Regions from separate parts of the Homo sapiens genome. Here region 2 is linked to region 1. The links come from fine-mapping of genetic effects on gene expression. A gene starts in region 1. The other region holds a variant in brackets. All regions are shown on one strand. Distances are between the middles of the regions.

Region 1 (12,756 bases):
GATTTAAACCAAGGTCTAGCTCATAGAAAGTAAGTGTCTGCTGGGTATTAGCTGCTGCTTCCCCTGTTGGATCATTGTCTGCTTCCTACAGAGAATAGTGGCATAAAAACTAATCATCAGCATAAAATCGAAGATCTGGAAAGGACATCAGGACTCCAATTTACAAATGAGGAAACAGAAGTCCACAAATGTCTTCTTTTTTTTTTGGAGAGACAGGTTCTCACTATGTCACCCAGGCTGCAGTGCACAGAGGTATGATCTTTTTTTTTTTTTGAGACGGAGTTTTGCTCGTTGCCCAGGCTGGAGTGCAATGGCACGATCTCAGCTCACCACAACCTCCACCTCCCAGGTTCAAGTGATTCTCCTGCCTCAGCCTCCCGAGTTGCTGGGATTACAAGCATGTGCCACCACGCCTGGCTAATTTTGTATTTTTAGTAGAGATGGGGTTTCTCCATGTTGGTCAGGCTGGTCTCGAACTCCTGACCTCAGGTGATCTGCCCGCCTCGGCCTCCCAAACTTGGATTACAGGCGTGAGCCACTGTACACGACTGCAGTGGTACAATCTTATCTCACTGCAGCCTAGAATTCCTGGGCCTCAGGCTCCCAAGCAGCTAGGACTATAGGCACATGCCACCACACCTGGCTGACGCCAAATAGTTTGACAAAGTTTATGCTATAAGATAATGGCAGAGCTAGAACGAGAACTGCAATCTCCAAATTCTGGATCCAGGGAGCTCTCTACTAGAGGATACTGCCTTCCGTTAAAGGAAAACAATAGTATGTTCTGTGAAAAAATACCTTAAACATAGCTTCAAGTTTTTCATGAAGCTTTTCCCAATAAATATCTTGTTTCCATAGGGAGATTACTTAAATCAGAGAAAGACTATTAAATAGTTGCTTAACCTCTGAAGCATCCCAAAGAATTTCAGTAAGGCATTTGGAATATGAAGATCTGCTAGCAGGACAGAATTAAGATATGCATAAGGGGCTGGGCCTGGGTGAGGTGGCTCAGGCCTTATAATCCCAGCACTCTGGAAGGCTGAGGTGGGCCAATCACCTGGGGTCAGAAGACCAGCCTGGCCAACATAGTGAAACCCCATCTCTACTAAAAATACAAAAATTAGCTGGGCGTTGTGGCAGCACCTGTAGTCCCAGCTACTCAGGAGGCTGAGGCAGAGGTTGCAGCGAGCTGAGATTGTGCCACTGCACCCCAGCCTGGGCAACAGAGCAAGACTGTCTCAAAAAAAAGAAAAAAAGGTATGCACAAGGAAGAAAACGATCTTTTCGTTTTTTTTTGAGATGGAGTCTCACTCTGTCGCCCAGGCTGGAGTGCAGTGGCGAGATCTCGGCTCACTGCAAGCTCCACCTCCCGGGTTCACGCCATTCTCCTGCCTCAGCTTCCCGAGTAGCTGGACCACAGGCGCCCGCCACGATGCCCGGCTATTTTCTTTTTGTATTTTTAGTAGAGATGGGGTTTCACTGTGTTAGCCAGAATGGTCTCGATCTCCTGACCTCATGATCCGCCAGCCTTGCCTCCCAAAGTGCTGGGATTACAGGCGTGAGCCACCACGCCCGGCCGGAAAACAATCTTAAAAAAAAACACTGAGGTGACTGAAAGAAACGCAAAGAGACAGGGTCCCCATTACCTCATAATCCATTTCCAGACAAGCAAACATTGGATTTTCAAATCCGACATCTACTCCAACTACATGATACACTAAAGTGTTTGCTTTGTGGGCTTCCAGGGGAGATGAAATGGTAAGTCGGGCTGCAGCATCTCTGTTCAAAATATACACCAATTTCTGTTTCTCAATGGCACCTGTAGTTGAAGGAGATAAAACATACAAGATTCCCAGATAATGAGAAGAGAGACTTATAGAACAGCTAGAGTCACATCATGCTTTTCTTTTAATCATTATTAACAGCAGTAACTCTACAAGTATAAAAACTCAGGATTCTGTTTTCTATCATCAGAATAGCACTTTGGGAGGCTGAGGTGGGTGGATCACCTGAGGTCAGGAGTTCAAGACCAGCCTGACTAACACAGTAAAACCTTGTCTCTACTAAATACAAAAAATTAGCTAGGTGTGGTGGTGCATGCCTCTAATCCCAGCTACTTGGGAGGCTGGGGCAGGAGAATTGCTTGAACCTGAGACGCAAAGGTTGCAGTGAGCTGAGATCGCACCACTGCACTCCAGCCTGGGCAACAAGTGCGAAACTCTGCCTCATTTGAAAAAAAAAAAAAAAAAGAATAGACAATAGTGGAGCTGGGCACAGTGGCTCAAGTCTGTAATCCCAGCACTTTGGGAGGCCAAGACAGAAGGAAGGATTGCTTGAGCCCAGGAATTCAAGACCATCCTGGGCAGCATTGTGAGATCCCCATCTCTCTCTTATTTATTTATTTATTTATTTATTTATTTATTTATTTATTTATTTTTGAGATGCAGTCTCACTCTGTCGTCCGGGCTGGAGTGCAGTAGCGCTATCTCGGCTCACTGCAACCTTTGCCTCCCGGGTTCAAGCGATTCTCCTGCCCCAAGTAGCTGGGATTACAGGCACCCACCACCACACCCAGCTAATTTTTTGTATTTTTGGTAGAGACTGGGTTTCACCATGTTGGCCAGGCTGGTCTCAAACTCCTGACCTCAAGTGATCCTCCCACCTTGGCCTCCCAAAGTGCTGGGATTACAGGTGTGAGCCACCGCACCTGGCTGAGACCCCATCTCTTTTAAAGATAAATAGCCACCGTGCCCGGCTGAGACCCCCATCTCTTAAAAATAAATAAATAAATTTTTTTAAAGACAATGGCATCATTGTGGCCCCCTTCTTCCTAATACAGGTCTTAAATATCCCACTAACTAGTCAAAATTTTTTAATGAGTCCTACATTTAAGGATACTGAAAAACAGTAATTCATAAAATTATCATTAGCCTTATTCTCTGAAATAGATCTAACGATTTATGACTGCCCTCTAGAGGCCTGATCAGACACACAAAAATTTTCTTCAAGAATTTATCAGAGAAGAGACATGAATGTGAATCATCACTTCAGGCTGATGAAAGCAACGATATTCACTGTCTAATAACATAAGATCATTTCATTGTAGTCTTTTTGCCAAAGAAAAAGAAATTGAAAAACACCCATTTCCAACTAGATGGGAAGTAGAAAGGTGTGTTAAGATTTTTCCCATTGTTTTAAAAGAAAATGCAACTCTTTTAAAAAGGAAATGCAACTTTAAACCTAGAGTAAATCCAAACATGATGCCAAACCCACATAAGTAATTAATTGGCACTGGCACACCACCAAGAGCACAGCATTGTTATCCTAAACTAGGCATATACAGCAAGTAGAGTAAATCACTTACTAATCATAACGGCTCGCCCTTTGGGATCCACAGCTAAGAACTGGCCAGGAACGATGCGACGGCATCCACTCTTGCCAAAGGTTTCTTGGTGAATCTTCTCAAACATATTCTTAGATGGCTGGTATTCCAAAATAACAATTCGACCAGAGTCACTGCCAACTACAATGTAGTCTTTGGTGCCACCTGTCAGCCTAAAGGCCATGAGTGACCGGATAACACCGAATACTTCCACAGTGAGTAGGGTATGTACTTTGCCAGTGTTGGGGTCTGGGCGAAGCAGCTCCAAGATCTTCCCACGGGAAACAACAATTTCTTGTTGTTTGGTTCCTAGATCACCAAAAAATAAAGATCATAAACAACCAGAACCCAGCCTGGCCACCATGGTGAAACCCCGTCTCTACTAAAAATACAAAAATTAGCCAGGCGTGGTGGCACATGCCTGTAATCCCAGCTACTCGGGAGGCTAAGGCAGGAGAATCGCTTGAACCCAGGAGGTAGAGGTTGCTGTGAGCCAAGACTGTGCCACTGCACTCCGGCCTGGGCAACAGAGCAAAACTCCGTCTCAAAAAAAAATTAGTCAGGTGTGATGGCCTGTGCCTCTAGTCCCAGCTACGTGGGAGGACAGTTTGAACCCAGGAGTTCAGAGAATGTAGTGGGTTATAATCCTGCCATTGCACTCCATCCTGGGAAACGCAGCAAGATATCGTCTCTAAAAAAAAAAAAAAAAAAAAAAAAGGCCACGCACAGTGGCTCACACCTGTTATCCCAGCACTTTGGGAGGCTGAGGCAGGCAGATCACTTGAGGTCAGGAGTTTGAAACCAGCCTGGCCAACATGGTGGGATCCCATCTCTACTAAAAATACAAAAATTAGCCAGGTGTGGTGGCACGTGCCTATAATCCCAGCTACTCCAGAGGCTGACACAGGAGAATCGCTTGAACCTGGGAGACGGAGTTTGCAGTGAGCCGAGGTCGCACTACTGTACTCCAGCCTGGGCAACACAGCAAGACTACGTCTCAAAAAAAAAAAAAAAAAAAAGAAAACTTCTCCATCATTTTAGATAAAAAGGAAGACTGAATTGGAAAAGGAATTTGAAAGATAAAATTAGTATTAAAAATGTGCTTTCAGCAGGGCACAGTAGCTCATGCCTGTAATCCCAGCACTTTGGGAGGCTAAGGTGGGTGGATCACGAGGTCAGGAATTCGAGATCAGCCTGGCCAATATGGTGAAACCTCATCTCTACTAAAAATATGAAAAATTAGCCGGGCATGGTGGTGCACGCATGTAATCCCAGCTACTCAGGAGGCTGAGGCAGGAGAATCGCTTGAACCCAGGAGGCGGAGGTGGCAGTGAGCCAAGATCACACCACTGCGCTCCAGCCTGGGTGACAGAGCAGGACTCTGTTTCAAGGAAAAAACAAAAACAAAAACAAAACAAACAAAAAACAAAAACAAAACAAACAAAAAACAAAAACGTGCTTTCAAAAATTCTATCCAAACTCCAGCTGAGATTCATTGCATTACATAGTGAAGTCAGTCACAAATCTCCAAATTCCCATATACGTATTTCCTTAATCAAATGCAGCAAAGAATAACTAAATTACCCAAATGAAGACTCAAACCCGCAGGAAGAGCCATAATGAGGATCAGAGAAAATAACAACATGAAATATGAATGCTGTGTGGTCAGTTAGGCTGCCTCTCAGTACCACATTAAGTATTCAGTACCACATTAAGTATTCAGAGTTAAACCTCAACAAAATTATGTCTTACTCTACACAATCATGAACCTCCTGCATTACTTGGATTGACTCAAAAATGTTAAATCTGCAAATGGCAAGAAAAAGTTTTTATTTTATAAACATTAGTACCTCACTTTCAGTAACTTTGTATTTCCTAATCCAATATTTGAAATTTCACACAATTCAAACCTAGCCTTAATCCATCTTTACAAAAATATTCCCCACATGGTAAACGTAAGCAAATTATCTGTTTCTATGCAGACAGCACTCCCTACCTAAACTGCATTTTCCCTTTTCTCTCATACAAAAGTTCTATCTCTTCAAGCACCAAACCAAGGTCCAACCTTCCCTTTATTTAAATTACTCTCTGATAACCAGACAAACACCTTCAGACATTCTTTTTACCCAACCTGATGTCAAATTCAAGATCAAAGATCAGGTCTTACACATCTCAGTATGTCTTACAGCAATAGGCACACGACTTGGCACTAGGTAAGCAGCCAAGAAAAGTGTGCCCTGACAAGAATCATTACACAATTTGTGAACTAGGAAATGCATCTGAAATAGGTAACAGATAATGCACCAGAACTTAACACCTCATCTCATAATTTGAATTGTTTACATTTACCAACAACTGTTTTGTCATAAATGGAAAACATTTCCTGCACAAGAGACTAAGCAAGATATGTATTAATTCACTTAAAATTTCAAAAGATGGTAACGAGAGAACTTACCAGAAAAGTTTCCATGAATGGCAAAGCTGATGCCAGTGGCTCTCTGCAAGGTTAAGTTGTACAGAAACATGGCTGCAGGAAACCTGAGCCACCCAGACCTCCAGGCCTTGGTTACACCAACAGTACGGAGTCCAAGAAAGCTAAGAAAACAGAAAACAGAAAAATAGCTGGGAGACTATTACTTCAACAGACATTTCTGTATGGGAAATTCTGGATGAAGACAGCAGAACCAGCAGAGCAAGCCCTATTAAGAAACAACATATGTGACCGGGCGTGGTGGCTCACGAGGTCAGGAGTTCGAGACCAGCTTGGGCAACACAGTGAAACCCCGTCTCTACTAAAAATACAAAAATTAGCTGGGCATGGTGCTGTGCGCCTGTAGTCCCAGCTACTCGGGAGGCTGAGGCAGGAGAATCGCTTGAACCTGGGAGGCGGAGGTTGTGGTGAGCCAACATCATGCCACTGCACTCCAGGCTGGGCGACAGAATGAGACCTCATCTCAAAAAAAAAAATAAATAAATAAAAAGCACGGGACCTTGAGAAATCCAAGGTCATTAGTATAGAATTAACATACATATTTGATTTTATTGTTAAACGAGAAGAGAGAATTATGAGTAAACGTCCTCATAAATAACTTTCTGGGCTGAGCAAAAGCAGGGTGGCAAGATCAATGCTCCAGGCTAGAAATGGGTCCTGAGAGATATAAAATTTTCTACTTGAGACTAAGGTATATCTTTTTTTTTTCCTTTTTTTTTTTTTTTTTTTTTTTGAGGCGTCTCAATCTGTCGCCCAGGCTGGAGTGCAGTGGCGCCATCTTGGCTTACTGCAAGCTCCGCCTCCTGGGTTCACACCATTCTCCTGCCTCAGGCTCCCGAGTAGCTGGGACAACAGGCGCCCGCCACCACACCCGGCTAATTTTTTGTATTTTTAGTGGGGTTTCACCATGTTAGCCAGGATGGTCTCGATCTCCTGACTTCGTGATCCGCCCGCCTCCGCCTCCCAAAGTGCTAGGATTACAGGCGTTGAGCCACCGCGCCCAGCCCATAGACTAAGGTATATGTTTAACGTTCTAGGACCACAGTAAAACATGAACGAAAAGGACCGATGTTGAAAGACCAGGGAGTGGAGAAACAACAAAAAAAGCAAAAGAGAGGAAGCTAGGAGCTGCTTCTGAATCCCTGAACAGCTCCCCGCAAGTTACTTTTCATATTTTGTAGCTGATCAAAACAGTCTACTTTCCCCTTTCCTTATAACTGATACAATCCATTACAAACCTTTGGAATTCATTTTTTCCCAAATCTAGTTGGATTCAGGTTCTCCAGCGACACCTTAACTTTGGATCGTGGAGGAAGGTGCATTTCGGAGGATCAGTCCAGTACTAGAAAAACTATATACGAGGCCAGGCGCAGTGGTGGCTCACGCCTGTAATCCCAGCACTTTGGGAGGCCGAGGCAAATGGGTCACTTGAGGTCAGGAATTGAGACCAGCCTGGCCAACACAGTGAAAACCCCTCTACTAAAAATGCAAAAACTAGCCGGGCGCGGTGGCACACGCCTTTAATCTCAGCTACTCGGGAAGCTGAGGCGTGAGAATAGCTAGAACCAAGGAGGAGGAGGCTGCAGTAAGCCGAGATCAAGCCGCTGCGCTCCAGCCTGGGCGACAGCGAGACTTCGTCTCAAAAACAAAACAAACAAACAAAAAATACATACCAGATAAATTTGGTAAGCTTTAAAACTTCCCCCACGTCTGGGCCGGGCGCGGTGTCTCACACCTGTAATCCCAACACTTTGGGAGGCCAAGGCGGGTGGATCAAGGTCAGGAGATCGAGACCATCCTGGCTAACACAGTGAAACCCCGTCTCTACTAAAAATACAAAAAATTAGCTGGGCGCGGTGGCGGGCGCCTGTAGTTCCAGCTACTCGTGAGGCTGAGGCAGGAGAATGGCGTGAACCCGGAAAGCGGAGCTTGCAGTGAGCAGAGATCGCGCCACTGCACTCCAGCCTGGGCGACAAAGCGAGACACCGTCTCAAAAAAAGAAAAATTAGCCGGGCGTGGTGGCACGCGCCCGTAATCCCAGCTAGTCTACTCGGGAGGCTGAGGTAAGAGAATCGCTGGAACCCGGGAGGCAGAGATGGCAGTGAGCCGAGATCGCGCCACTGCTCTCCAGTCTGGGCGACAGACTGTGACTCCGTCACAAAAACAAAACAAAACAAAACAAAAAAAACTTCCCCCACGTCTGTTTACCATTATTACAAAAAGCTTGTATGATTGCTCACTGCATCTTCTCCATCCTCCAAGGAAACATCATCGCATTTAAACTCTGTCCTCCATTACGCAAACGAGAAAATAGAGGTTCAGAGGAGGAGACAAGTTGCCCAACTACCAAAATACAAATTCAAACCGGAGTCTTGGCTCTAAAGACTGTTTCCGTTATTTACGCTTTTAACACGCTCCATCTTTCTATCTTCCCCTCGGTGTACCATTTACTCTACCCAGAGGGAGACATCCATGCCTCCCGCTGCTTGTCACACCTCCCCCGTCTCAGAGTCCCCAGAAGTTAAAAGCAATCTCCACGAGCCCTATTTTGAGATAGAATATGTTCCCACACTGTGGATGGAAGCGAGAGATAACTGCAGGAAGCCGTTTTGGCGCCTCAACCATCCCTCGGTACCTCCTCCTGGTCCCCAGCCTCTCGGGCCTAGACTGCCCGTGACCCCCGCCAAAGTCTCGGGTCCCCCTTCCATATGGCCGGTCTCCGCCTCCCCGGGCCCGGGGAAGTCTCCAGGCTGTTTTTTTACCCTGCAGCGAGAAGGATGGTGTGGATATCCAACGGATGCTACCTCCCTTCAAAACTTAAGCCACCACCAACTCCAACATACTGGCGTCCGCCATTAGACCTCAAGACAGGGACATTCTGGTGGCGCGCGGCGGAAAAAGGCACCCAATCCGCGCCTGAAGAATATATATAATTTTTAAAAAATGCTTCCGTCTTGCTTCCACACGGCATTACAAATTATTTAAACATGCTTTATTGCTTTGCTTTTTCCAGGAGAATAGAAAATTAATACGTTTTTAGAAGTAGACTTTAAAAAAAAAAAACCATTAGAGTTCATTGGGCACTTCTGTGGGCAGCCCCAAATAGGCGCCAACGAAGAGGGGGCCTCGCGGGACCGGAAGTGCCGAATGGGGACCAAGATGGCGGACCTTGATTCGCCTCCGAAGCTGTCAGGGGTGCAGCAGCCGTCTGAGGGGGTGGGAGGTGGCCGCTGCTCCGAAATCTCCGCTGAGCTCATTCGCTCCCTGACAGAGCTGCAGGAGCTGGAGGCTGTATACGAACGGCTCTGCGGCGAGGAGGTGCGGGGTCGAGCCTCTTCTTTTTCATGGAGGATCTAGGGAGAGTGGGAGCCTTCAGTCGGGAAATCCGGGCTGTGGGAAACTCTCCTTGCTGGGGGATACAAAAAAGCGGGAAAACAAAGAAGCGGAAGCTAGTCGGGTATATGAGTAGTCCTGTCAACTCTTTTCACGCTGTCGGACGCGCCGAGCTTGTCTTCCCTGATACCTGGGCGATCTGCAGCCTCTCCTCCCTAGACCCCCGTTGATTTCCCTGATCCATGATCACCAGTTTCTCCACGGGAGTAAAGTTAGTCTGAGAGTATTTGCCAAATTGCTTGGTTCTCAAAATAATAAGCGCCCTTTTGCATTGGCTTAATTTACAAATTATGAAACGCTCTCATCCTGTTATTTAAGAGGGAAGCCTTTGCAGATTAACTTCTTGAAGCGTTTTAAGACTTCCTCTTGTGGGGAGTGATTTGGGGGTGTGATTTTAGCGTTTTGGTCAAATGCACATCTTTGTAGAGGTTTAGCTTTTAAGACTCAGACACAATTCTCTAATCTTGGACAAGTCACTTCATCTCTGGTACCCTTGATATTTTATCAAATGAGGGGTGTGGACTATTCTCCAATTCCTTTCAGTTCATAACGTTCTATTTCCTGCCTCCTTTAATTTTCAGTGGCAACTCGATGCTGTCAATTCACTTTCGAATGTCAGTTGGGTTCCTTGCTAGTCAAAAGAGATCTAAGCTCTAAGCTTGTCAGCTGTTTCCCAGACCAAACTTCTAGCAAAGTTGAGCACAAAAGGCAGTTTCAGCCTGAGGGAGAGGTGATCGTTGATATCTTTGAGTATTTTCAAGTATAAACTTGCACTAACTCTAGCAGTTTCTGATACGTTTTTCAGCAAGATGTGTGTGGTGTTTTTTGTTTTGTTTTGTTATTTTTAGAAACAGGGCCGCTCTCTGTTGCGCAGGCTGGAGTGCTGTTGTGCTGCAATCAGAATGGATGAAACCAGAGGCGCACACCACCGTGCCTGGCTAGTTTAGTGTGTGGGGCTTTTTTTGTCTGGCCTCAGCAAGATGTGTTTTAAAATTTAGTATCTTGCGGGGCGCGGTGGCTCACGCCTGCCATCCCAGCACTTTGGGAGGCCAAGACGGGAGGATCACCTGAGTCAGGAGTTCGAGACCAGCATGACCAAAATGGTGAAAACCATCACTACTAAAAATACAAAACTAGCCGGGTGTGGTGACGCATGCCTGTAATCCCAGCTACTCGGGAGGCTGAGGCAGGAGAATTGCTTGAACCTGGGAGGCGGAGGTTGCAGTGAACCAAGATAGCGCCATTACACTCTAGCCTGGGCAACAAGAGCAAAATTGTGTCTCTTAAAAAAAAAAAAAGCCTGGCGCGGTGGCTCACTCCTGTAACCCCAGCACTTTGGGAGGCTGAGGCAGATGGATCACGAGGTCAGGAAATCGAGACCATCCTGGCTAACACAGTGAAACCCCGTCTCTACTAAAAATACAAAAAATTAGCCGGGCGTGGTGGCGGGCGCCTGTAGTCCCAGCTACTCGGGAGGCTGAGGCAGGAGAATGGCGTGAACCAGGGAGAAGGAGCTTGCAGTGAGCCGAGATCGCACCACTGCACTCCAGCCTCGGCGACAGAGTGAGACTCTGTCTCAAAAAAAAAAAAAAAAAAAATTTAGTATCTTGACTTAACATTCCTAAGCTCGCATTCATTCAGTCATTTAATATGTTGGGTGGAAAATTATGGAAATCTTACAGACAAAATGATATAAGTACTGTATTTGTATTCCATGACTGTCAAGAGGACGTTTTCCTCTGGAACCTACAGAACGATTTTAATAAAAATGTATATGGCCGGGCTTGGTGTCTCATGCCTGTAATACCAGCAGTTTGGGAGGCCGAGGCGGGTGGATCACCCGAGGTCAGGAGTTCGAGACCAACCTGGCCAACGTGGCGAAACCATGTTAGTCTCTACTAAAAATGCAAAAGTTAGCCGGGTGTGATGGTGGGCGTCTATAATCCCAGCTAATTGGGAGGCAGAGGCATGAAAATCGCTTGAACCCCAGGGCAGGGAGGTTGCAGTGAGCCAAGATCAGGCCACTTCACTCCAGCCTGGGTGAAAGAGCGAAACTCGTCTCAAAAAAAAAAAAAAGTATAGCTGCCTGGGCACAAGTGGCTCATGCCTCTAATCGCAGTTCTTTGGGAGGCTGAGATGGGCAGATAGCTTGAGCTATAGTTGGAGACCAGCCTGGGCAATAGCAGATAGTTGGGGACCAGCCTGGGCAATATAGTGAGACCTCGTGGCTACAAAAAAATTAAACAGTGGACCAGGGTTGTGCACGCCTATAGTCACAGATATTTGGGGGGCTGGGGTAGGAAGAGCACTTGAGCCCCCGCAAAAAATAAAAATGTATGGTTAATTTTAATGGCTGTTGTTGAACTATATGCCACATACCATGTTAAGCACTTTGTGTGGTTTCCTGTTTGACTCATTCAACAGCCCAGTGAGATTGGTATTGCTATCCTAGTTTTACAGATGAAAAAACCGAAGCATAAAAATGTTACATAAATTGAGGTTGCACAATAAATGGCTTGAATGAGAGATAATTATATTTATAACCCCTGGCTACTGACTATGCACCAAGAAGAAAAATTTTGGTAACTGTCACTGGAAATTTCATTTCAGCAAGATGTGTGTGGTGTTTTTTGTTTAGGCATTGTATTTTCTTTTTTTTTTTTTTGAGACAGCGTTTCACTCTTGTTACCCAGGTTGGAGTGAAATGGCACGATCTCGGCTCACTGCAACCTCCACTTCCCGGGTTCAAGTGATTCTCCTACCTCAGCCTCCTGTGTAGCTGGGATTACAGGCCCCCGCCACCACACCCAGCTAATTTTGTTTTTTGTTTTTTGTTTTTGAGACGGAGTCTCACTTTGTTGCCCAAGCTGGAGTGCAGTGGCATGATCTCGGCTCACTGCAAGCTCCGCCCCCCCCCCCCCCCACCCCCCGGGTTCATGTCATTCTCCTGCCTCAGCCTCCTGAGCAGCTTGGGCTACAGGCGCCCGCCACCACACCCGGCTAATTTTTTGTATTTTTATATTTTTAGTAGAGACAGGGTTTCACCGTGTTATCCAGGATGGTTTCGATCTCCTGACCTCGTGATCCGCCTGCCTTGGCCTCCCAAAGTGCTGGGATTACCGACGTAAGCCGCCGCGCCCAGCCTAATTTTGTATTTTTAGTAGAGATGGGGTTTCACCATGTGGCCAGGCTGGTCATGAACTCCTGACCTCAGGTGATCCACCCACCTGGGCCTCCCAAAGAGCTGGGATTACTTTGGGATCCAGTGCTGGCCAGGCATTGTATTTTAAATGCCTTCCTGTATTAGGCACTATGCTAATGATACTGATTAAAAGTTTATTTCTTCCTATTATGGTGCTCATCTGCCAGGTGGAATAAGATATACGTAAGATAACAATCATGCAACATAAGTGCAAAATGAAGCATTGTTAAAGTCTAAGGAGAACATAGTGGAAGGAAAAAAGGACTTGGAAATGAGATTCACCCTTCA
Region 2 (8,560 bases), 45 kb after region 1:
ATAATTTTACCTATTTCATAAAGGAGATACTTTTTTTTATGAAGGTCAAAGTAACTTACAATAGTTGTGGGGGTTTTTTGGTTTTCATTTTGTTTTGTTTTTAAGTAGAATAGGTACTTTGTTCTCACTCTGCTGCCCGGGCTGGAGTGCAGTGGCAGTCATAGCTCTCTGCAACCTTGAACCCTTGGGCTCAAGGGATCCTCTCGCCTCAGCCTCCTGAGTAGCTAGGGATGCAGGGGCGCACCACTACATCCAGCTAATTCTTTAATTTTCTGTGGAGACGGCTTCTCACTATGTTTCCCTGCTGTTCTTAAACTCTGGCCGCAAGTGGTCCTTGCACCTTGGCCTCCCAAAGTGCTAGAATTACCCGCATGAGCCACCTCGCCCAGCCTGGTACTTTAATAAAAGTGAAATGCTTAGAACAAAGCCAGGTATACAGTACGCCCTTAAACCTTAGCTATGATCTTGACCATCCCCTTTGGTAGCCATACCAAAATATTTAAGAAGCAGAAACTGACTTTTGTGGTTTTTTGGTAAATTTAAATAAAATTTAAGAAGAAGTAAATAAATATAAAAGGGGGGGAAAGGAGGAACTATAGCAATAATAGCTAGTGTCTCCTGTGCCAGGCATTGAGCTAGGCACGTTGTGCTTCATCTCATACATGAGGAGCAGGAATTGGTGTTCCCATTTTATAGACAGGAAAATTGAAGCTCAGAAACTTTAAATCATTTGCCCAAGGTCACTCAACTAATACATGACTGAGCCAGGACTTGAACCTAGGAATGTCTGACTCTAAAGACAGGAAAAACTTTCTGGTATTTCTGTTTCTTACTCACTTCCCCGACATTGGTACCCCCATATTACAGAGGGGGAAGTGGGAGCCAAGTGGATAACCACCAGGATAGAATCCAGGTTTTCTGAAACCCATCCGGGCTCTTGACAGGCCATAGCTGGCTGGAGGAGTAGAACTGGCTGGTGGCTCCTCACACTCCCATGGCCCACGCGTGCTCGGTGGTCTTACAGCAGTGTTCTCCCCTAGAGTGACTGCACCAAGCTCTTCAGCCAGGGCATTGGAGGGGAGCAGGCCCAGGCCAAGTTTGACAGCTGCCTTTCTGACTTGGCCGCCGTGTCCAACAAATTCCGAGACCTCTTGCAGGTAAGCCCCAGGTTCAACTGCTGACTGAATCCTGTGCCTGTGTGTTGCTCTGAGAAGATTGTTAGCTGGCTCATCGTGTGCAAGGAAGCCAGGAGGACGGGTGAGGGAGCAGCACGCAAGCCCTGGAGCCTGGAGTTGTGCAGGTCCCTTGAGACTAAAGGCCCTGTTGGTTTCTCAGCAGTGAAGTTGTCACACTGACAAGCCAACATCTGGTGCTCTAGACTTTGCACTTGGCCCCACAATGACAAGAGCTCTCAGAAGATGCTCAGAGGAAGTGGAGCCACATGGTTGTTCTGACCTAGCCGCAGGTGCTGCCTAACATTGAGCATTCTGAAATCTCTTGTGAGAGTTTATCAGAACAGTCTCAAGGCCTCATCGTTACCCTGGACCTGAATCAGCTGAGATCTGGAAAGGGGCATGTTCCTGGCTCCTCCTTTCATTAGCACTAGCTCTGTTATAACCTCCAACAGGGCCTGCAGAAAGCCTCAGGGCTGGAAGAACGCCCTGCAGTCAAGGGATGGGGAGAGGAGAGAGGGAAGGGATGGGGAGAGGAGAGGAGGATGGGGTGGGGAGAGGAGAGAAGGAAGGGATGGGGAGAGGAGAAGGGGATGCGGTGGGGAGAGGAGAGAGGGAAGGGGTGGGGAGATGAGAGGGATGGGGTGGGGAGAGGAGAGAGGGAAGGGGTGGGGAGAGGAGAGAGGGAAGGGGTGGGGAGACGAGAGAGGGATGTGGTGGGGAGAGGAGAGAGGGATGGGGTAGGGAGAAAAGAGGGATGGGGTGGGGAGAAGAGAGGGAAGGAGTGGGGAGAGGAGAGGGAAGGGGTGGGGAGAGGAGAGGGAAGGGGTAGGGAGAGGAGAGGGAAGGGGTGGGGAGAGGAGAGAAGGAAGAAATGGGGAGAGGAGAGAAGGAAGGGATGGGGAGAGGAGAGGAAAGGGATGGGGAGAGGATAGAGGGAAGGGATGGGGAGAAGAGAGAGGGAAGGGATGAGTCGTGCCTTCTGTGTCACATGTCTCCACCTTGTCCTTGTGCAGGAAGGGCTGACGGAGCTCAACAGCACAGCCATCAAGCCACAGGTGCAGCCTTGGATCAACAGCTTTTTCTCCGTCTCCCACAACATCGAGGAGGTTAGCCTGGCCACAGGCAGCCATCAAGCCCCGATGACCCCTCATCCCTAGCCCCAGCTAGAGGGAGCAGAGCCATCTGAACAGACTAGACCTTCCATGCTTCCCAGGCCCACTTCCCCCACCCTGACCCATGAAGACTAGGTTCCTCCCAGGAAACAGTTTGTCCCTAGTCAGAAGGGCTCAGAAAGACATGGAGTTTGCCTTGACCTAACTTATTCCCTTATTGGAGCTCTTTTTGCCCCGCCTATGATAGACTTAGAAGCGTTTTTTTCCTCCTGGCGTAGTGATTTCATTCCTGTAGAACAAGAGATCCAAGAAGGAATAAAATGCCAGGAACTTTACCATGTTATGTGGGCCACTGCTACAGCCCTGGGCTGTTTGCTGGTCAGTTTCTGCCAGCCTGGGTGTCTGAGCTGGTTTTAAACTAGATGAGTCAGAAGGCACAGGGAAGGAAGAATGTTTTACATTATTTTCTTAGAGGGATAGAGGTGGGTGGCAATGAATGGTACTTCTTATGAGGCCCATGGTGACCAGCCCTGCTTCCTGACAACAGGAAGAATTCAATGACTATGAGGCCAACGACCCTTGGGTACAACAGTTCATCCTTAACCTGGAGCAGCAAATGGCAGAGTTCAAGGTGAGCAGGGGCCCTAGGGATCCACTTAGGGAATTACCCACGTCAGCCCAAACCAGCAGCCTGCAGGGTCTCATCACATTCCTTCTGGGGACCCTGAAAGCCCTTCCAACCCTCACCTGTAGAAACTCCCCCGTGGCCTCACGCTACTATCCTCACCACCTAAGACTCCAGCATAGAGGCAGAGGAGTTAGGTGGGGCTCGGCTGATGTCAACCCTCTGTGTGCAGGCCAGCCTGTCCCCGGTCATCTACGACAGCCTAACCGGCCTCATGACTAGCCTTGTTGCCGTCGAGTTGGAGAAAGTGGTGCTGAAATCCACCTTTAACCGGGTAAGGTAAAGGGGTCATGGGTCTGCGGCTCTCGTTTCTCCTCTGAGGAAGACATGTCATGCCACCACCCCCAGGACTTGCATCCCCTCTGTCTGCTGCCCACAGGCCCTGCATGTCTGGGTCCAGTCCTGCTCTGGCTTCTGAAGCCGTAGAGCAAACAAACCACAGGGCACCACCTGAGGCCTGGCGGGCCTTGCCACCCAGCTCTGGGGGCAACTGGAGGCCAGTTCTGCTTGGCCAGGCCTAAGTAGTGACTGGGCTTGGGTTCTCCTGCAGCTGGGTGGTCTGCAGTTTGACAAGGAGCTGAGGTCGCTCATTGCCTACCTTACCACGGTGACCACCTGGACCATCCGAGACAAGTTTGCCCGGCTCTCCCAGATGGCCACCATCCTCAATCTGGAGCGGGTAGGTGGGGCACCCTTGGCCCAGCCAGGGAGGGGTGACTGAAAGAGGCAAAGATGGATCCCCGCCACTTCCCTCTAAACCATGTCTGCCAGCAGCCAGCTCTATAGGACACCTTCCCCTTCCCGGGTGCCCCTGCTCTGCCCCTGGTAGAGGCCAGAGCCCTCTTTCAGAATAACCCCACCTTGCTGACTGGTCTCTATGTCCTTCCCCACAGGTGACCGAGATCCTCGATTACTGGGGACCCAATTCCGGCCCATTGACGTGGCGCCTCACCCCTGCTGAAGTGCGCCAGGTGCTGGCCCTGCGGATAGACTTCCGCAGTGAAGATATCAAGAGGCTGCGCCTGTAGCTGCCTGGATGAGCACACCTGGCTCATCACACTTGCAGGCCTGTTCCCTAAGGGGCCCCAGCCAAGGAGCTGAGCGAGGCTGTCTGGCTTGGGGGAGATCTGACAGCCCAGACCTTTCTACGGCTGGCAGCAGAGAAACAAAGTCTGGACCCACTCCATGCTCTGCCCTCAGACCTGGCCAGGTGATGCTCTGGGGGCAGCATCTCCCCACCGAGAGAAGCGGGCTCCTAATGAGGTGGGAAAGCCACGGCAGGCAGCGAGCAGCCCAGGCCAGCTTTCTGCATGGATGGTCAGTCTCTTGCCCTCAAACACTACAGCAAA[C/T]AAGCTACCCCTGCCAGTCCTAGACAACTTGGGTACATCTGGGGACCTAGCAGTTAGGCTTGACTTTGAGGAGAGGCTGTGATGTTTATGATCCCTGAATAAAGCTACTCCTTGGAGAGATGCCAGTGTGCTGTTACCAGGGAGGGCCAGATGCTATGGGGCAGGGCAGGTCTATCAGTTGCACTGAAATAGGAAGGTAAAACCCAAGACCTCAGCCTGCTCCCACACACAGTGCAGCACACAGCTGTGTCCGGGGCCCACATGATGGCAGGAGCCCCCATCCAGTCCCAGACCCTCGTGCCCCTCTTGGGCCCCCAGCACCACAAGCTGGATCACCCCAGGGCCAGTTCCCCATGGTGTAGAGAAGTGGGAACTGCTCCCAGCAGGAGCAAAAGTGACTTTACGAGGACCACCTGCAAGGACAGAGTGAATTTATTCCAAGAATGCCAGTCCTGAGAACCCACTTCCCACAGGCACCAGGTCACTTGGCACGCTCCGTAGTTTTGCTAGTTAAGGCCTGGGATGGCAGTGAATCACTGGGTCACTGCTACCAACTTGGCAAGGGACCGCCACCCTCACTCCCACGCTCACATGAGGGTTGAGTGTAAGTCTACAACTCTAAGCCATAGGGAATGCCTCAAAGGGCCTCTTCAGGGTTGGCCTTGCTAAGGGACTCCCAGCCATATGCCAAGGCTGGCTGTCAACCCTTTCCAGGGCCCTTGTGGAATGAGAAGGCCAGCCATAGGATTTGTAAAGGCCACGTGGGATACTAAGCTTGGGACCTTCCTATGTCCAGGAGGAACAGAGGCTACATCTAGGCCCCTGTCCACCAGGTCACAGTCCTGTCCCAGGCACTCTCTGCTTGCCCAGATCTTGCTCTGGTCAGCTTCCTTTGGGAGCAGATTCGCAGAGGTGGGTGGGGAGTAGGAGGTGGAGGTTCCCATGGGGCAAGGAAGGTGGGGGACACTGTAGCTCCAGGTTTTCTCCTGTTGCAGAGAGAAGCCAGCTTCATGGGAAAGGGCAACAGGTTGAGGCCTCGGTCCCCAGCAGCTTCAGGCTCAGGCCCTGAGTGTCCACTTCAACCAGGTGGATGCTGTAATTCCCAAGGCCCTGGACAAGACAGGAAGTATTTAGAAGGCTCTGGACAAATCTCAGGCCTTCTGGAGGCTGGACTGGGCCTGCAGGACCAGGGGGACTTACAGATATAGCCCCTGGTTAACTGGTGGGCCACAGTGAGGTCTCTTGCCCCCAGAGGTCTCTTTACCAACCCCAGCCCCATCAGTACCTCGGTCTTGGCCAGCACCGCCTCCAAGGCCTCCTTTTGCTGTGGCTCCTTGGTCAACAGATAGAGAAAGCCTCCACCGCCTGCCCCAGCCAGGCTCTGGCCATGCACGTGGGGGGCCAGGACATCCATCATACGCCGCACAGTCAGGGGCTCACAGCCTGGAGCCATGAGCTTCTTCTGCTCCCAGTACGAGGTCAGGCACTGGCCCAGCAGAGGCAGGCTTCCTGAGGTGGGGCAGAGGGGAGTGACGTGCCTGGGCCAAGATACTCAGCACCCATCTGGAGATTGCATGAAGTGCCAAGACGTGCTGCTGAGCCAGTGTCATGGTAAAGAAGCCGGATTCCAGTGCCGGCTGGAGCCAGGAGTAACCCACTTCCCAGGACTGCCTGAGGACCAATGTGCAGGAAGCAACCAACACCACACCCAGCATAGTCGGCATCTAGGGAGCTGTGAAGCCACACACTGGGGACCCTGCCCAGCTCAGACTTCCTTGGAACTCAGCCATGGGTTGAGTCCCTTCCCCTCTCTGCTTCCTGTTAGGGCTGGAGGGCCTTTCCCATGATGAAAATTTTGTCCTCAGATGTAGCTCTCCCCTAAATGTGAGACCCTGGAGAGGACAGACAGTAGGCTTCTGTTCCCAGAGGCCGAATATCTGGAGCTTGTGCCAAGCCTGCAGATGACCCTGGCCTCAAACCCACAAGTGACAGAATACTCGCTCCCAGTGCCCTGACCCCCCCAGAGGAAGCCCCTCACCTTGGCGGAAGCCTTCAGCACACTCCTCAGTTTGCCGTACCAGGCTGTGGGCATTCTGCACCACAGCAGGAAGTCGGGCATACCAGCTCCTCAGCACATCCTGCGGACGGGGCAGGAGAAGGGGTGGTGAGGACCCAGGCCCAGCTGGCAGGCCCCCTGCCTGCCTCCCTCATGCTGGGGCCAGAGCTCACCTGCAGCAGGTTCCGAGCCAGGCGGGTCTTGCCAGTGTACACCAAGAGCAGGTGGTCATTGAGCTTCTGGACAAAGCCCTCAGGCACCGTGACCTCTTCTACCTCCACCTTCAGTGGCAGCTGAGCCCGGGAGCGCCCCACCTTGATGCCAGGCATTAGGCCACCTACTTGGTCCTGCCAGCCACCTCCTGTGAGCCCAGGGACTGTCACTGTTGGAGTCTATCTGGCCCAGCTTCACTCTCCCAGCCTAGGCTCCCGGCCCTGCACCCCTTGCTGGGACCAGTGTGGAAAGATAGCTTCCCTCAACTCCACAGGACAGTGAGCTATGCAGCTTCTGTCCCCAGAACAATCCCAGCAAGGGAATGGGCTTCACTCTAGGGCAAAGCTTGGAATTCCCAAGGCCTGAGTTTTGTTTTAGACCTAATGTATAATTGGAATTGGGATAAACCACACTGAAGAATAAAGATTTTACACTATGGCCGGGCACGGTGGCACACGCCTGTAATCACAGCACTTTGGGAGGCTAAGGCGGGCAGATCATTTGAGGTCAGGAGTTTGAGACCAACCTGGCCAACATGGTGAAATCTAGTCTCTACCAAAAATACAAAAATTAGCCAGGCATGGTGGTGCATGCCCTGTAATCCCAGCTTCTAGGGAGGCTGAGGCAAAGGTTGCAGTGAGCTGAGATCGCACCACTGCACTCCAGCCTGGGTGACAATGTGAGACTCTGTCTCAAAAAATACATATTTTACACTGACCTCTGCCCCTCCTAGGGGAGTTTTAGTCAGAGGAGAGGCTGACAGATACCTTCCCTTTGGCCTGAGTCTCCCTGCACCGTCTTCTGACAGGTGGTTTATGTTGGAAGGAAGGTCATCAGGATCTGTTTTTCTCTTATCTAACTTACACATCTTTCCATCTTCAGTAATGAAAGGTATGTATCATTTTCCTCCTTGTAGCTGCATAAAAATAACAAAACTAGTCCGGGCATGGTGGCTCACGCTTGTAATCCCAGCACTTTGGGAGGCCAAGGCAGGCGGATCATGAGGTCAGGAGTTCAAGACGAGCCTGGCCAACACAGTGAAACCCCATCTCTACTAAAAATACAAAAAATTAGCTGGGCATGGTGGCAGGCACCTGTAATCCCAGCTACCTGGGAGGCTGAGGCAGGAGAATCTCTTGAACCCGGGAGGTAGAGGTTGCAGTGGGCTGAGATCGCACCACTGCACTCCAATCTGGGTGACAGAGCTAGACTCCATCTCAAAAATAAAAAAAAATTAAAAATAACAAAACTTGAGTTGCTTCTGGGACAGGCCCTTGATAGTTAGGGAAGGGCCTGCAAGGGTTTAAAGTATGAAATGCAAAAGACAGAAGCCATCTGGAACTTTGCAGCCAAAACCTGGTAGTTGCAAAGTGGCTAAGTCTTGAAATGTCAAGACTTAACTGTGCCCCTCTGCTTCAAAGCACTTGGCACAGTTTGTAATACACATGCACCTGAGTAGTTATTGATTAATGTCTGTCTCCAGGAGACCACAGGACTTTTGAGGGCAGGGACCCCATTTTTGCTCATTTTATCCCTGGGGCCCCACAGAGTGGGTTCTCAACAAATAGTTTTCCGTTGGCCAAATGTAGAACTTGAATGGTACACCTCAAAAGAAAACTGAAAATGCTTCCCCATCTGCTCCTTTTGCTAATGACTACCGATTATGGGATATGAGTCACTACAGTGAAATGTGAGGCTTGAGCTGCAGAGTGACAGAAAACACCACAGTCAGGCTTCAGTAGGCCTTTGCAGCAGTTTCTTTCCAGGGGTGTGCTGGAGACGGGACCTGACACCCTGAGGTGGACCTGAAACCAGACAAGCTGTAGCTGCTCTACACTGGCCATGGGTTCCAGGGGGCTCGGTGGCCAGGAGGAGTGAGAAGCCTGGCGCTGGTGACATTCATTAGATCATAGTCATTGTTGGGCTCTTGCTGTCCCACCATATGGCCAGGGGGTGGGGGCGGGGGCACA

Evidence for each region.
Region 2: its variant is fine-mapped to the expression of COG4 in blood mononuclear cells (TOPMed, PIP above 0.99).

What each region holds. Positions count from the first base shown.
Region 1 is chr16:70,519,808-70,532,563 of GRCh38, reverse strand. COG4 (component of oligomeric golgi complex 4) reads left to right here and starts at 9,010. Exons shown (of 19, transcript NM_015386.3): 1 at 9,010-9,191. The coding sequence starts at 9,021. SF3B3 (splicing factor 3b subunit 3) reads right to left here and starts at 8,748. Exons shown (of 26, transcript NM_012426.5): 1 at 8,636-8,748; 2 at 5,838-5,977; 3 at 3,365-3,691; 4 at 1,647-1,819; 5 at 1-85. The coding sequence starts at 5,907. SNORD111B (small nucleolar RNA, C/D box 111B) reads right to left here and starts at 3,065; the gene lies at 2,965-3,065. RefSeq lists enhancers at 7,467-8,204, 9,238-9,377.
Region 2 is chr16:70,476,450-70,485,009 of GRCh38, reverse strand. It overlaps FCSK (fucose kinase), which reads right to left. Exons shown (of 24, transcript NM_145059.3): 21 at 6,551-6,738; 22 at 6,360-6,459; 23 at 5,607-5,830; 24 at 4,736-5,431. The coding sequence ends at 5,330. COG4 (component of oligomeric golgi complex 4) reads left to right here. Exons shown (of 19, transcript NM_015386.3): 14 at 1,041-1,157; 15 at 2,189-2,281; 16 at 2,835-2,918; 17 at 3,145-3,246; 18 at 3,523-3,651; 19 at 3,866-4,439. The coding sequence ends at 4,000. Among named protein-coding and RNA genes, the nearest start is that of FCSK, 26 kb to the right of the region's middle. RefSeq lists a silencer at 5,810-6,104 and enhancers at 7,736-7,905, 8,046-8,315. The variant C/T (reference allele first, on the strand shown) is at 4,322.